2 separate regions of the Homo sapiens genome follow, and region 1 is linked to region 2. Evidence: fine-mapped expression QTL. A gene starts in region 2. The other region holds a variant in brackets. All regions are shown on one strand. Distances are from middle to middle. Region 1 overlaps DIDO1 (death inducer-obliterator 1). Region 2 holds the start of DIDO1 (death inducer-obliterator 1).

The links. PIP is the estimated chance that this variant, and not a neighbour inherited with it, causes the effect. A credible set is the group of variants that fine-mapping cannot tell apart.
Region 1: its variant is the best candidate, but not a certain one, in a credible set for the expression of DIDO1 in gastroesophageal junction (GTEx, PIP 0.65).

What each region holds. Positions count from the first base shown.
Region 1 is chr20:62,870,679-62,878,999 of GRCh38, forward strand. DIDO1 (death inducer-obliterator 1) reads right to left here. Exons shown (of 16, transcript NM_001193369.2): 16 at 7,065-8,321. LOC105372717 (a long non-coding RNA gene) reads left to right here. Exons shown (of 4, transcript XR_936989.4): 2 at 4,095-4,243; 3 at 4,364-4,499; 4 at 6,109-8,288. It also overlaps the pseudogene ARF4P2. Among named protein-coding and RNA genes, the nearest start is that of SNORA117, 8.1 kb to the right of the region's middle. RefSeq lists enhancers at 4,656-5,310, 5,311-5,964. The variant TAC/T (reference allele first, on the strand shown) is at 3,075.
Region 2 is chr20:62,922,609-62,930,929 of GRCh38, forward strand. DIDO1 (death inducer-obliterator 1) reads right to left here and starts at 3,897. Exons shown (of 16, transcript NM_001193369.2): 1 at 3,831-3,897. RefSeq lists enhancers at 1-380, 2,773-3,386, 2,995-3,044, 3,387-4,000, 4,883-5,731 and 1 more and silencers at 3,485-3,574, 3,645-4,084, 6,728-6,777.

The DNA.
Region 1 (8,321 bases), 52 kb before region 2:
CGCACCCGGCCATTGTTTTAAAGACCCCTCTTCTTAATGCCACCACAGTGCAGATTAGGTTTCAGTATGAATCTTGGAGGGATACAAACTCAGACCGCAGCAAGCAGGGTTTTTTTTCTTTCTTTCTCTCTCAAATTCTTGGAAGGTTGAGCAGGGCAGGGTCACCAGGCCTGCCGGCAACTGCTCCCCTTCCTCTCATCCTCCTGTAGCTTCTTGGACTCCTGGGCCAATTGATTTTTCTGTTCCGTGATGTGGAGTGATCAAAGCTGGTTCTGGGTTTTCTGGAGCTGGATCTTTGATTGCCTTTGATTTAAAAGCATTGGTAACCGTTTCTCACGGGAAAGAGGCGCTGATAATTCATGCAAATGAGCATCAATGGGCAAAATTCAACCAAGTGCCTCTGGAACCAAGGCTGCCATTGAACATTCTAGTAAAAATGGGGTGGAGGCTTTTGCCCAAGTGCTCTGGATAATCTGGGAAAAGAAAATGGTGAGTCAGTGCTTTATTTTATTTATTTATTTATTTATTTATTTGTTTGTTTTTGAGGCGGAGTCTTGCTCTGTCACCCAGGCTGGAGTGCAGTGGTGCGATCTCGGCTCACTGCCACCTCTGCCTCCTGGGTTCAAACGATTCTCCTACCTCAGCCACCCAAGCAGCTGGGATTACAGGCACATGCCACGATGCCTGGCTATTTTTTGTATTTTTCTGGTAGAGACAGGGTTTCACCATGTTGGCCAGGCTGGTCTCGAGCTCCTGACCTCAAGTGATCTGCCTGCCTCGGCCTCCCAAAGTGCTGGGATTACAGGTGTGAATCACCGTGCCCAGCCGAATTTTTTTTTTCTTTTTTTTTCTTTTTAGATGGAGTCTCTGTCACCCAGGCTGGAGTACGGTGGCACGATGTTGGTTCACTGCAACGTCCGCCTCCTGGGTTCAAGCGATTCTTCTGCCTCAGCCTCCCGAGTAGCTGGGATTACAGGCACGTGCCACCATGCCCAGCTAATTTTTTTAGTAGAGACGGGGTTTGGGGTTTCACCATGTGAGCCAGGATGGTCTCGATCTCCTGACCTCATGATCCCCCCGCCTCGGCCTCCCAAAATGCTGGGATTACAGGCATGAGCCACCGTGCACGGCCTTTTTTTTTTTTTTTTTTTAAATAGAGGCAAGGTTCACCATGTTGCCCAGCCTTGTCTCCAACAAGCTCAAGGGATTCACCTCCTCACAGACAGTGCTCCCACAGGCGTGAGCCACCACGCCCCACCTTATTTATTTTTATGTATCTTAACTTCCAAGGTGGATTTATTTAAAGGTTTTACAATAACTATGTCCAGGCTTTAGGCTCATGGGAAGTAAATGAGGACACCTTTTTCCCAAGAAGAATTTCTTTAAAACCAAGCACATTGCTAAATAACAACATTATATTTGGCAAACAATAATTGGCAACAAAATAAGTTTATTATTCTGCCCAAGCCAGTCCCAGATGCTGTTTCTTAACCAAGATACAAACAAATTTTGCTGTAGCAAGTCTAGACCAATTTTATCAAACATGTCTTTGGTTAGATGTCTAGTTTCATTTAACGTTTTGAAAACTCATTTGACAGCCAGTCAAGTCCCTCATCTACACCAGCTCCGTGTTGCACAAGTGGCTTGAACATACCATGTCCTGTTAGGAAGAGACTGAAGAGCTGGCTGGCTCATCTGTCGTCACACTGATGGCCCGAGCGCTGGGCAAACCCTGTTTGTTTGCAGAGAGCAGTGGCGCTGCGTCTCCACACTCACCGGCCAGAAGCCTTTTCTGCAGCGCGTCCGCCACTTCCCGAATTCTTTCATGATCGTTGCTATCTACCAGCAAAAGAAAACCCTGGGTATTCTGGAAGTAATGCTTCCAGAGAAGCCTAATTACATCTTGACCATGAACATCCCACACCATGAAACAAGTGTTCTCTTTTTGAGTCAGAGTCTCGCTCTGTCATCCAGGCTGGAGTGCAATGGCGCAATCTCAGCTCACTACAACTTCCACCTCCCGGGTTCAAGCAATTCTCCTGCCTCGGCCTCCCGAGTAGCTGGGATTACAGGAGCCCACCACTATGCCTGGCTAATTTTTGTATATTTAGTAGAGACAGGGTTCCACCATATTGGCCAGGCTGGTCTTGAACTCCTGACCTTGTGATCTGCCTGCCTCGGCCTCCCAAAGTGCTGGGATTATAGGCATGAGCTACCGTGCCTGGCCCAAAACAAGTGTTCTTATATTCTACTCTTTCCATGTTAAAACCAATGGCAGGAACTGTGGTGAGTACCTCCCCTAACTTCAGTTTATACACAATGTATAGGCAGCATCCAATCGAACCGTCCAAATGTGCATCTGCTTCTTGCTGAAGAGGCGGGAGAAGAGAGAGGAGATGGCGGGGACCATGGGTTCGTGGCACTTGTGATGGGCAGAAGCAGAGGGGCTTGGGGGGCCCTGTGCTTTCTTCTTTCATGCTTCCAGGCAAATTGAACAAGGGGGAAGAGAAAGAACTGAGGAAGAAAGAGGGAGGCAGGGACATCTCACTGGCCCATGTGCTGGTGAAGCTGTAGACAGGAATTAGCAGGACGAGGACCTGCTGGTGATGGACACAGCAGCTCCAGCTCTCGATGCTTTAAATGCCTGGCTTGGAGTCTGAAAAAGGAACCTGAAAGCCTCTATGACTGCCTTAAAGTAAGTCCTTATCTCCTGTAGCCATGGGGCTGAGATTTCTGCAAAGCAAACCTGAAGCCTAGTCTCCTGGATGATTTAATTACAGCCTAAACTGCAGTTTCGACTTTGCAGTGCCTCTTTTGTTAAAGTTAGGGAAGTTGGGAAAGAATGGGAACCTGACGTTGCAATGGGGGCATGTGGGCGGCAAGCCACCCAGGTGCCGAGGCAAGAGACCGAGGGCACGAGCTGTTCCAGTGTAATAAAATATATAAAACAACAAGAGTTATACCAGATACAGATCATAGACATGATTATATATGAATATCTTTCATCATTAGTTTGTAGCAATTACTCTTTATAATGCTTGCTCTATAATCATAATCTAGGAAAAACCAGGCCA[TAC/T]AGAGACAGGAGCTGAGGGGACATGGTGAGAAGTGACCAGAAGACAAGAGTGTGAACCTTCTGTTACGCCCGGACAGGGCCACCAGAGGGCTCCTTGGTCTAGCGGTGACGCCAGCGTCTGGGAAGACGCCCGTTGCCAGACGGACCGTGGTCTAGCGGTAGCCTCAGTGTCACGGAAAAACACCCGCTACTTAGCAGACGGGGAAAGGGAGTCTCCCTTTCCCCGGGGGAGTTTAGAGAAGACTCTACTCCTCCACCTCTTGCGGAGGGCCTGACATCAGTCAGGCCCGCCCGCAGTTATCCGGAGGCCTAACCGTCTCCCTGTGATGCTGTGCTTCAGTGGTCACGCTCCTAGTCCGCCTTCATGTTCCATCCTGTGCACCTGGCTCTGCCTTCTAGATAGCAGCAGCAAATTAGTGAAAGTACTGAAAGTCTCTGATAAGCAGAAATAATGGCGTAAGCGGTCTCTGTCTCTCCCTCTCTGTCTCTGCCTTGGCTGCCAGGCAGGGGAGGGCCCCCTGTCCAGTGGACACGTGACCCACGTGACCTTACCTATCACTGGAGATGACTCACACTCCTTACCCTGCCCCTTTTGCTTTGTATCCAATAAATAACAATGCAGCCAGACATTCGGAGCCACTACCGGTCTCTGCGCATTGGTGGTAGTGGTTCCCCGGGCCCAGCTGTCTTTTCTTTTATCTCTTTGTCTTGTGTCTTTATTTTTACACTCTCTCGTCACCACACACAGGGAGAAGCCCACCGACCCTGTGGGGCTGGTCCCTACAGGGGCATGTGGGAAGATCCCAGTGAAGCTGAGGACCACGAGCCCTGCAAGTCCATTGGGATCTGCCGGTGAACTCCGCAGGTCGTCTTTGAAGGCACATGTGGCTCTTCTGCCACTGCCTGGGGAGCTGAGACCCCTTTGCCCAAAGACCCTCAAGTGCCTTCCCTAGGGAGCTGCCCTGTAAGGTGCCGCCGTCCTGCCCGGGACTCACCACCACCTCTGTGTTCCTTCTAGACCTAGATCCAGACTGGAGTTCCAGCAGGCCCCAAAAGAGAAAGTGTGAGGTGTGGCCTACAAATATGTTTCCCTACGAAAACCTGCGGAAAATGTGTGGAAATCGATGTTGAGAGTGCGGGATCTGGGTGGGAGGAATATAAGCTTGCGTAAGTGGACAGGGACTCAGATACGAGATTCTGGATTTGATGCGTTGGAGGGAACGGCTGGGAGTGACCCACCCCCCACCCCCATTTTCTTCATCAGTCACCGAAACTTTCGCCCCACAGGTAGCTGACCCTAAATTCAGTGAAATCCAGAACTTTCCTGGCACACTGGAGAGGACGGCAGAACGCTGGGATGGATTTATCGTGCAAGACCAGCTTGATGTCCTTAGGGCTTGGAGGTCACCCCTTCACGAGGATTGTGAGGAGTGAATTCATCGGGGAGCCCCGCACCCTCACCTGCACCCTCACCCCCACCCCCACCCCCACCCCCACCCCCACCCGCACCCCCACCCCCACCCTCCCCCCCACCCGCACCCGCACCCCCACCCTCACCCGCACCCCCACCCTCACCCCCACCCTCACCCCCACCCTCACCCCCACCCCCACCCTCACCCGCACCCCCACTCGCACCCGCACCCCCACCCTCACCCGCACCCCCACCCTCACCCCCACCCTCACCCCCACCCTCACCCCCACCCCCACCCTCACCCGCACCCTCACTCGCACCGCACCCTCACTGGCACCCTCACCCACACCGCACCCACACCCACATCGGGGAAGAGCTCCATGATCATTCTTTTCTGTAGGCGAAAAACTGCGGCGGGAACTGCTGCCATGCAGCTGGGCTCCCAATGCAGTGGGGATGGTGGCGCTCTGGGCTGGCGGGAGCTATCCTGCCGGACGTGATTCCCAGCACAGCCGTGAGCGGCAGCAGAGGCGCAGTCATCTGACCCACATAGTTCCTGCGTTGCCTGATGGGCGCAGCTTCCCTAGAACTGAAAAAAAAGGACATCCTGCCAAAGGCGTCCCCGTTCTGTGCTGGCAGAAAGGCTGTAGGTCCGAGAGCAGGAGTCCTGCGCTCTGACTGGAAGCCCCAACACAGAGTCCGGGGCCCTCGGCCAAGTTCCAGACTCTGGACAGACCCAGGCCCCTGGAATGAAGGACAGACTGAGTCTCCGAGAGGAAGGGGCCCTGCTAAATGCCAAAAACATGCAGCTAATCTTCCCACCGCCCCTTCCCAAAGGAATCTTCCTCTGTTTATCAGGAGTCTGTGCAACGGGAATGGGAAATAATCAGGCCTTTTAGGAATTACTAGACCCTGGAGCTGAAAGGACATTCATTTCAGGAGGCCCAGATGCCAGGCAGAGCTGTGGTTTATGGAGGCGGACGACGGAGTTGGTTCAGGTTTTCCTCTGAGGAGGCCCAGTGAGCCTCCCGGCCTCCTGTGGAACAGACATACTCAGCCAATGGCAGGGTCCCCACATGGTCCCCTGAGCCCTGGAGTGAGGTCGGCTGGGAGCAGCAGAGCAGCCGGAGGAGGAGGAGCAAACCCCAGGCCACAGCGTGCTCCTGGAGGGACCCCGATTTTGTCAAAATTTAGATGCAGAGAGAAAAAGATTAAGGAAAATACCAAATTAACGACAGCAGTGACTGCTGGGTGTGACGTTTTGGGCAGGCTTGGTTCTTCTCCCTTTTGCTAGGTGTCCCACAGGAAGACGGACCCAGCATGTGGGGACCTGCACCCAGCCAGTCTCGCCCTGGCTCAGCCTGTTCACTGGCGCTGCCCTGCCACTGAGGGCTGAGGTCACTGTCCGTCTGGGCATGTCTCATGTGGTCTTTCCTTTTCTCCCCTTCTGGTTAGGCCCCCTGAGCTCAGCCACAGCCACGATCCCCACTGCCGCCTCCTCCCTGGGACTCGCTGATGCCTGGTGTGGGGAGGGTGCTGGCTGCTTTGGGTGTTACCCCCCGTTGGAGGCCCCCGTGCCGAGTTCTCGAGTGAGATGGCTCTTTCCATTTTCCCCCGACAGCTGCCTCGGCCTCTGTGCTAGAACAGGGAGCTACAGCTCAGTGACCCTGTGGTGCCTTGTGGGCCTGTGGGTGCCAGGGCTCCGGGGCCTGGGCCTTTTCCTGCTTGGTGTGGCTGACCGGGACGCGGCCGACCCCAGGGGCATACTGGAGCTAGGTCTTCCTCGCCATGTTTCCACAGTGAGCCCTTTGGCTGCACAGGTCACGGTCTGGAGCTGTTGGAGGAGGCTGCTCAGAGCTGTTGCTGCCCCACCAGACACTTGGCCAAGGGGCCTGCACCGGTCTGCGCGGGAACGTCCCACCGGCGTCTGCTCATGGCTGGGCTGTGGACCCATACGCTTGTTCGGAAGCCAAGCTCTGGCCCACAGGCGACCAGAGGAAGCTCGCAGGCCAGGCGCCAGCTCCCCGAGCCTGTCCCTGCAGCCGCGCTGTGTGCAGGCACGTGGGCCACCGCGTCTCCTCCACTGGCACTGCTGGGTCTGGGCCGCCAAGCCCACCTGCCCACCTGCATCCTCAGCAGCAGCACGCCCCGCAGTCGGCGGGTGCACACTCTGCTGCAGCCTGGATGGGCTGGGGCCTCGGGGCTCACTCCCCAACCATGAGACTCCTTCACCGCAGTTGAGGCTGTTGCAGTGGTCTCGGGCTCCCACTCAGCCCCAGGAGAGGGTCTGAAGGGGGTGAGTCCCTCCTCCCGACCTTCCTGCCCATCGTCTCCAGAGCTGGATGGTGCTGGGTCCCCACAGGGAGCGAGACAGCTGCCCCGTGACGGAAGGATGTGGGGACCCGCACCCGGCCGGTCTCACCCTGGGCTCAGCATGAGTTCAGGGAGGGGTCCAAAGGGCACTCCTGCCCACGCCCAGGCAAACCAGCAACAAGAAACTGGGTGGCCAGGGCGTCCGTGCACGACCCCAAACTTCTCCGCGTTAGAAAAAGGCTGATGAAGACCCGAGACAGAAACTTCCTGTAGCTGTTTATTCTACTGCGAGTAACAAAACCTAGGTCGTTCCATGTTCTCATGTACAGTGATATAAGCCTCCGCAATATAAAATACAATGTACAGGAATCTCTATCAAGTAAACTAAAGAAACACACTTGATTTTTACATTTGTGTATTTAAATTAGAAAAATTTGCTTTATATGTTAAACAAACAAAACCTTCTCATCGTACTAGATGTTGGAACGTGACACCTACTTTAATGTAATTTAACCTATGGACACTTGGCTTTCAACACCAAACATCTCAAACTGATACATTCTCAATGTTTTCTTAACTTAAAAAATCTGTGCTATAAAGTGAAAAATCTGTAGTGACGTACAATGGAATAACAGACTCCAAAGAACAAGTGAAGTTCTTTAATTTTACATCTGTAAAAGTTTATGAAAATATAAAAAATTATCAAAGTGTATTTGTACAAATAAATTAGCCAGATTTTTTTACTTCACACTTCAGAAGTACTCGAAAAATACACGACAAGCAAGAGACTGTTTCACAGTGAACAGCTTCCTGTCTCATTTGCAGTTCTTGAGCTAGTGATCACTAGTTCCCGTCTCAGACTTTACACAAGTCTTGTTCCACGTTCAAGGACAAACTTTTACATGTATCGTCTGACAAATACCAGTTTGGGGCCGAGCGTACTTTTCCCGGGATACAGAAGAACTGCTCAGAAGGCGAAACTGGACCAACAAAACTCCTGATTATTCAAATCAAGGACTCCTCCCTGCCCCCAAAGTACACTTAATTGGTTTGTTACTTTTTTTAGGCTGGTAAAACTTAACATTTTTCAATAAATTGTTATTTAAAATGCAACAATTATACTAGGACAGATGTTGCTTTAAATCATGTTTTGGAAAAAATTGATAAGGTGATATATAAAATCTGAGCACGCTAAGAAATGTGTTTCTGTTTCCCAGTTGAAAATTGTAATTCCAATTTTATGACAAAAGAAAGATGCATTTGTAAGGTTTGTGTTTCTCAAGACTCCAGATACAAGCTACTAAGACTTCTCCCGTAGCCGCAGGGTGGACGCCTGCAGGTCACGCCCACACCGGCCTCCGGGGCGGCGGCTAAGACCTGTAAAAGCAGCTTTTGGAAACACAAACGGATGAGATGTCAGTGAAGGTATGGCTCTAGGGTCCAACGAAACTCCCTTAAAATTTACAATAAAGTTATTGGAAAAGATAACTATGATCTGAAAAGCAATATGCTCCGTAGGCA
Region 2 (8,321 bases):
GGGACGGTAACGACCTCACAGCTTCCTACAAGGTTTTCTGAAGCGACATCCTGTGCCAAATCATCTGCGGCAAGTGTGCAACAGACGGTAGGTGCCACCTAAGAAAGTGACACAGCCTGTGCTGGCGAGGGCTTGGAGAGAAAGGCCCTCTTAGGCGAGTCTATTTGTCCGACATATTTGCCAACAGCCCTTTATGGGCTTGGCACAGGGAAGAGAGCGGGTGACATACTGTTCTCATGGAGGGCAGGGAGTGCTTCACGATGACCCAGGAGAAATTAAGTAGGAAGTACACACTAACTTATGAGTGTTTTTTTTCTCACAAAGGTGACAAACTGAACACAAACTAACAGACCAGTTTGAAAAATCAAGAAACATCTATATAGTGAAATTCTTTTTGTTGGGGGTGGGGGGTGGACAGAGTCTTGCTCTGTCACCCAGGCTGGAGAGCAGTAGCAGAACCACGGCTCACTACAGCCTGGAACTCCTGGCTTCAAGGGGTCCTCTGGCCTCTGGCCTCAGCCTCCCAAAGTGCTGGGACTACAGGAGCACATCAGCATGCTTGGCCTAATTATTATTATTTTTTTTTTGAGACAGAGTCTCACTGTCGCCCAGGCTGGAGTGCAGTGGTGCGGTCTCGGCTCACTGCAACCTCGACCTCCCAGGTTCAAGCGATTCTCCCACCTCGGCCTCCCAAGTAGCTGGGATTACAGGCACGTACCACCACACCCAGCTAATTTTTGTATTTTTAGTTAGAGATGGGGTTTCACCATATTGGCCAGGCTGGTCTTGAACTCCTGACAAGTGATCCACCCATCTTGGCCTCCCAAAGTGCTGGGATTCCAGGCACGACCCACCATGCCCGGCCGGGAATTCTTTAAGGGTGATGAATCATCACATGCACAGCCGTGAGAAAAACTCCCTGGCACCTGAGTGAGAGCCGCAGACAAGCCGGCCAGGGCAGTGGCCACAGCCTCCAACGCATCCCGTTCACTAGTGCAAAACAGCTGTAACGTGGAGCTTTTCTGGACAGCACCCTTTCTAGTGTCTTTACTTTCTATTTTTACATAATGTTTAAGTTTCCTGTATGTGTATTACTTTTGTAATCAAACACATTAAGGTATCTTCATTTTGGAAAAAAAGTTGATTTACCTTATTATAAAGGTATATTAAGTACCACTTAAATGTCTATATCAGCATACGCAAAACAAAACCACGGCATCAAAATTTGATACCCAAGGAGAGAAATGCCTCCTTTACAACTTACACACGATTACAACCGCCTATTAAGTTTTATGGACATGGTTACAGAATTCTTATTAAAATATGTACAATTACCTATTCAACTTCATATAACAACTTAACCTCAAAATTACTACTCAAAAAATAAAATGAGGCCTAGACAACACAGACTGTCTCACAGATGACTGTGTACACGTACATGAAATGAGCAAACTGGACTTTGTTCTTTGACCTCCTCTTTCCCAATTAGTACATTTCCATTAACTGTTAATTATAGAACTTTTGTAATGCAATTAACACACATCATTTGATAGTAGTCATAAAAAGGCTGATCTTAGTATCCACTGTAAGGGACCCCGTCATTTAAATAAGAAATGTAAGTGAGAGACTCTGTTTAGAGAGAATTTTCTAGTGGTCTTCTGAGCCTGCCAGAGAGATGAGACCTCTCAGGCAAGGGCACAGTGCAGGGACCCACAGATAGTAGGGAGTCACCTGTTAAACACTTTCAATCTTAGCTCTTCAAGAGCCAAATAAGCCACTTGGTATTATGGGACAGGCATATAAAAAGGAAAAACGTGTCTTGTTTACAGAGATTCCAAACAATGAAGACGTGGCACAGCTTAAAAATAAACACTGAAGAGAAGCACCCTACTGGGCTCCACAGAACTGACCTTAAGGGAATTATGACCCTAAGGCTGTAGAAAAACTCACAGTATCAACAGCAGAACCTGCCAACTTCACCGCGAACAAAACGGGAGCCAATGCCCATTCCAATCATTTCCTCCTTACATGAAGAAACCCCAGCACCCTCCAAGGCCCAACCGATGATCCGCACGTCCTAGACAAGCCTTTGCGAGGCTCACATATGCACATGCAACATGGGCTGGGCTGTCTGGTAACCATGGGTACGGCTGGGCAGTCAATCACAAATTATCTTATTTGTGCCCTGTCTTCTCACCACAGCACAATGAGCTCTGCTTGACATAGTCTGAATTCAATCAACTACTAATAAGGGACAGCCTCTGGTGGAAAGCCTGAAAAAATTCAAGATACGCGCTTTTCCAAAACAAGAGGTATCTTATGAAACTTGCTGAAACAAGTCTACAAGAACAGACATCTCCTCCCCATGTACACAGCAAGTAGGAAAACAAGTGTGCATTAAGCAGGGAGTTTCACAACAGGGCTGTGTCTGTCTTCCTGGGTGACACTTCTGAGATGTCTATGCCGTATTTAAAATAGTGAAATAGTCACAGACACACATACACTAACAGCAACCCAAAGGGCCACTAAAGAGCCCTAGGCTCCAGGTAAACGAGTTGGCAACACCTGATTTAAAGGAAGGAGCTGGAATAATCTCTCAAGTTCCCCAGTGAACTTGTCTCCAGGACTGGGACAGGGGCCACCTTGGTCACTGCTGTATCCCTCGTGCTAACAGTAAGCAATGAATGCTCATTTAAAAAAAGACTGTATTTACTCCTTAAAAGGCACTGCTAAGGACCTTTCTCAGAACTGTATTTCAACCAAGTCATATGTGGCCCTACGGAAACCATGGAACACGGGGTATATAGCAAAGTTATGTGAATATACCGAAAAGACGTTCCCATCTGCCTTTCCCTCCTCTAAGTCCCTGAGTACACTAGGCTCAAATCTCATTCCATCAGCAGACAGATGACACGGATATCGAAGGCCCAGGCACAAGTTAAAGAGTATTTTCAATAACTGGTAACGCAGTAAGCTACTGCTACCTGTGGCCCAAACTCTAAACTTATATATTAAAGTCCTTTATTTAGAGCAGAAAAGCCGGCCTTGACCTCCACTGTCTCAGAACCGCGAGAAGGAGCCCCGGACGCCGCAGCGGAGGCAGCACGAGCACCCCTCCCGCCGAGCGCAAGAGCGGGCCCTTTCGGCTTCCGGGGTCACTGGAAGGCAAAATGTGTCACAAATACGGCCAGTACAAACCAACGCAACAAACTATTCCACAAAAAAACTGAAAACCAGCGCGGGGAGGTAAGGACACACTCTTCAGAAAAGCGAATCCGGGCTCTTCGCGCTTCCTGCAGCGCCAGCCGCCCCTGCAGTGCCGGAATCCCCCGAAGGCACGCCAGAAGCTAAGCCGGCCACCCCGACCGCACCCAAGGCCCGGGAGGAAGCGCCGAGGTCCCCGAGAATGCCTAGGGAAACCAGCTGCGCTTACAAGCCAGCTACGCAGCCCCCGAGCCCCGGGCCGCACTCGCCCAGGCCAGCCCTGCGCTCTTCCCCGCGAGCGGCCGCCCCGACTCCCACCCTCGGAACCGTTCCAGCCGCGACCACCGAGTGCTCGCCAGTCCCCTCGACCTCACGCAGCCCACCAGGGCCGGCGTCTGAGGCCCGCGCCCCAGGCCGCGGCGGCTCTGACCGGCCCCGCCCGCTCGCCCGCCCGCCCGCCCGCTCCTTCCCTTCCGCGGCCGCCATCTTCTCGGCGGGAGCGGCCTGTGCGGGATCCGCGGCTCTCGCCAGCCGGGCTCCGATGCCGGCCCCGCCCCGCTCCCGAGGGCGGCCCAAGCGGCGGCCGGCTCTTCTACCCGGCGCCCGGGACGCCACTTACCGCAGGCCGCAGGCCTCTAGGGTCTCGCAGCCATTTCCCCGAACGCCGCGGAGTGGGCGGACGGCCACCGAGATGGCGCGGGGCTAGAGCGGCGCCCCCGCGCGGCGGGCGGAGGACGAGACCGGCCACCGAGACGCTGCGGGGCTAGAGCGGAGCCCGGGCTGCGAAGCCCGGCCCCGGACTGCGCGCATGCGCCCGTCTTTCATACCTGCACTCCGGACGCGCCCTTCGGGTCTGCACTGACAATGACTTGCTTGCATCCTTTGTGGACACCTTATTTCCCCGACTCCAAGAGTGAAAGCTGGGGCAGTGCCCTTGCGGGGATCCCTCGGAACAGCCCGGGCAGGGCGCAGGCGGAACGTGGATGCTAGCCCCGAGGGACTGCACTCCGCCAGGATTTCGCTCTTAAGACCGATAAACCCTTCAAGTCGGTGGGGATAGAAAGCTCCTGGGCTAAATTTGTAAGAGGTGTAGGGGGGCGGGGACAGGGGATAAAAGAAGAAAAGGCCCAGGTTTTCTCTTCCAGATTGTGTTTCTCAAAACGCAGGCCCCTGACGGCCTCGGCTGGGAATGGCAGCGAGGGGCGAGGTCCAGGTGTGGGCGGGGTTTCTCTCCAACTTGAAGACCCTACCTGCTGCCTCCCCACCCCAAGCTCGGCTCCAGAAACCAGGAGCGTGGGGGTGGGGGGGAGAGAAAGGAGCACAGCGAGGAAGGGAGGCGGGCACGCTGGACCTCTAGGCCCCAGGGACCTTGGCGGTGTGGTCCCAAAGCTCTGCCTCCTCCCACCATGTCAATCCTACACTCAGAACTACTGACCAGTAGCTAGAACTCAAAGAACGCATGGACATGTTTGCCCACAGGGGTTGGAGGGAAAGATTAGACACTTACTATCAAGAGAGGGGAAAGTGAGGTATGGTAGATGTCAACCTTCCATGTGGATTTTCTTCAGTTCGCTCAATAGTAACTAGAGTGACACTCTATCACCTGTCTGTCCCCAGATACTGCAGGAAAGAGACTGGGAGGGGGCAGGAGGGGCAGCTGTTGCCTCGAGGCACCATGGGCACTGGCCACTTGCTCCGAGGGCAGGGACCTGGGGGGGGTGGAGGTGGCCCCATTACTTGTTTCTGCTTCTGTGAACAGTGATACGCTACCTGGAAGCATGGACCATCTAGCCTTTGGCGTTGGCCCTGGCCAAGAGTAAAAGGGGCCCAGAGTGCCGTAAAGCTGCCCCTAATACAGAGGCTTCTGCGATGCTTCCATGGATGAACCAGGGGCTTTGAGGCAGGTGTGCTTTTTAATAATACCGCTGAAGATTACAGGGTCTGCTAGTTTCTGAGGCAGACTTAGTTTTCTTCAAAGGAATACAACGCAGCTTGTTTTTGCTGGTGTGGCCCATTAGGACCACATTAATAGAATCTGGCAGGGATGGGCTTGACAGTCTTCCATCTTGAGTGTGATCTCAGGTTGCAAAGAGGGCTTTTTGCTCTCAGACATGGGGTAGTGGGAAGCTTAGAAGACAGACGGGGTTGAGACCACCTTTAACAAGCAGTGAGATCTTGGGCAAGCTCTCTGTTAAAGGAGGGCTCACATGCTGAGGCCCAGGTGAAGACCACATGAGGCCTCCCTACAAGAGGCTCTCTCTAAATCCAACTGGTATGGGGGAACCTCAGCCCAGTCTCTTTAGCTGAGGATCTTTAAACCAGCCACAATTTGTTTCTGCAAGACGGTGAGATTTTTAAGAGATTTTAACTCTTGGGTACAGTTTCACGCTGGGCACTCAGGAGAGATAGATGGAAAGGCACTAAGGGAATAGAAAGAGTGGACAAGGCGGCTCAGGGACAAGAGAACCAAGAGGAAGAAAAAGGCAGGAAAACATGAGGAAAGGGAACCCTCACTCAGCTCACCGCAGTGCTCAGCGATACGCAGAATGCCTTCCTTCCTGCAAGTCCAGAGGATACTGGAACCTGCCTCTCGTTCTCATCTCCCCCGCCCCCCAGCAGAAGCTGGCTCGGCTGTGGAGGCCTGGCCAGACTATCCACTCTGGCCTTCCCCACCTACAAGGTGACGAAGTCAGCTTTATCCCAGCTTACCTGCCGTCACTATTCCTGGGAGCTGCCCTCCCTGGTGAGAAAGGCATTTGGAGAATCTACAGTCTGGGTATTTGAATTTGAACTCCACTAGCAAAAGAATACTTTTTCCTAACCGAATTTATTTTAAAAGTAAAACCCAAAGGAGGAAACAAACTCTTCAGTTGTTTCAATAAATTGTTCCTTAAATATCCCCAATTCACAAACAAAACCCCACAAGTAGCACCGATTTACAACAGGATGTGGCCCAGAAAGCAGGAAGGGGGCCAAGAGCGCTCCAGCAGGAAGCTTAATAGGTGGTCCATGGAGAAAAACACGATGGGTGCATCACAAATAGGTGTAAACAGTACACTTTTGTAATGTGTAGACACCAGTTTCTGCAACCCCCATGCCACGCAAAGTTTCAGGGAAAGTCTTTGAAAGTACAATCCGGAAAACTCAGCAATTCTTAAAAAAAAATGGCTTTCCGCTGTTATAAGCCTCCTTCCTAAGACTCAGGGTCCGCAGCAGAATACCCTGACCCAAAATAAAAATACTATGACAAAAATACTCCAGGAGGCAGCCGGCTTTACTTCGTTTAAAGCCGGATTTCGCTTAGTCCCGTGAAAGCGAAGGAGCACCAGCGCTTCCTGATTCCGCACAGTTCTCTCGGCAGAGACGGCCCGTCCTCTCCAAGAACCGGAAGCCGGACAGCGTCAGGACGTTTTATTCTTCTCACCTGGGATTCAGAGAGGCAGCGGCCAAGGACAGGGCCCCCGCCGAGGCCACCGGGCAGCGTCCAGGTCTCGGCCTTTGGGAGGGGAGCAGCGGGGGAGGGGCACGGGGAGGGGCGAGGGCGGGGCGCGCCTGGGCCTCGGCGCTGGGCTCCTCCTCTGCCCGCTCCGGGGGACACCCACAGGATTCTTGCAGACCTCTGCCGAGGCAGGATGGAGGCCTGCAGGGATGCACCGCGGGCCCGCGACCCGGGCGGCCGGAACATAGTTCTTTCTGGCCGGAGATCGGCCCGGTCGTGAGTCGTGTCTGTGCCAGGCCCCCCACGCTGTGCTCCAGGGCCTCAGTGCCCGGCGCGCCGGGGGCTGTATCGCCAGCCACTTGGGGCAGGAAAAAGGAATCACAAAATACAACCCTCTCCTTTACCCAGGAGGAGAACGTGGATTCCCAGAAAAAAGAAAAAGTGTATATATATATATATATGCCTACTGTTTTCTTATTGCTAACAAAAACTTCAGCCACTGTTTTGTTTTTTTTTTTTGAGAAACTGATGAATTTTCTTTACTTTTACGTTGTATAAGGCCAGCTAACTTTAACAGTTAATTTTAGATAAATCAACTCACCAATGCTAAAAGGTGTCACAATCAAATCGTCCACTACTTCCCCTCAAAGCAAACACGAAAGCACTGCCTTTGGCTCCTTTGAAGAATACTAACCAGATCTGCCAGGCGCGGTGGTTCAAGCCTGTTCCCAGCACTTAGGTAGGCCGAGGTGGGTGGATCGCCTGAGGTCCTGAGGTTAGGAGTTCAAGACCAGCCTGACCAACATGGTGAAACCCCATCTCTACTAAAAATACAAAAATTAGCCGGGCGTGGTGGCAGGCGCCTGTAATCCCAGCTACTCGGGAGGCTAAGGTAGGAGAATCGCTTGAACCCGCTGCACTCCAGCCTGGGTGACAGCGAGACTCCGTCTCAAAGAAACAAACAAACAAAAAAAAAAAAAACACAGATCTTTGTCTACCAAAGGGCAAATGCTACGTTTGTGCATCACTGAGTAACAGCACTGCCAGAAAAGGCAACTTCACAGAATTCACCCACTCAATGAATTCCGCTGAATGCTGTTTTGAGACAACCAACACAGAGGGAGAGCATGGACGATAGTGGGTAACATAAGGGGAACCGGCAAGATGGAAAAGGGCCAGGAAACAAAAGAATTCAAGGAAAAACAGAAACAGAAGTTAAACTTTGTGTTCCAACCCCAAAGACCTCTAGAAAGCTGTGGGATGTGATGGAGCTACACGTTCTATGCGGCATATGAGAATCATACCAATTTTCTGTCTTTTAGACAAAAGAATAAATGTGAAATAGGAAAAAGGGAGGGAAATGAGATGGGAGGAGGGCATCACCCCCTTTAATGCTGTACCAAATTACTATACAAACTGAATTGTTGTAATTAGAATTATGGACAGTGTCTTATCATTTGTATGTTACCAGAAACCTGTGCTATGACTTTTAACTAGAAAAACAACAAGGGATGATGGATCTTTCTTTGGTCACATTAGCCTCTGTAAGTTACTCAAGACAGCTGCAATGAACTGACAACAATATCCACAAACAAGGCAAAAGGAACTTCTCATGGCAGGGAACTGAATCTGGATGTTATTCTCAGTTCTGTCATTTTCCAGATACCTTTAGAAAGAA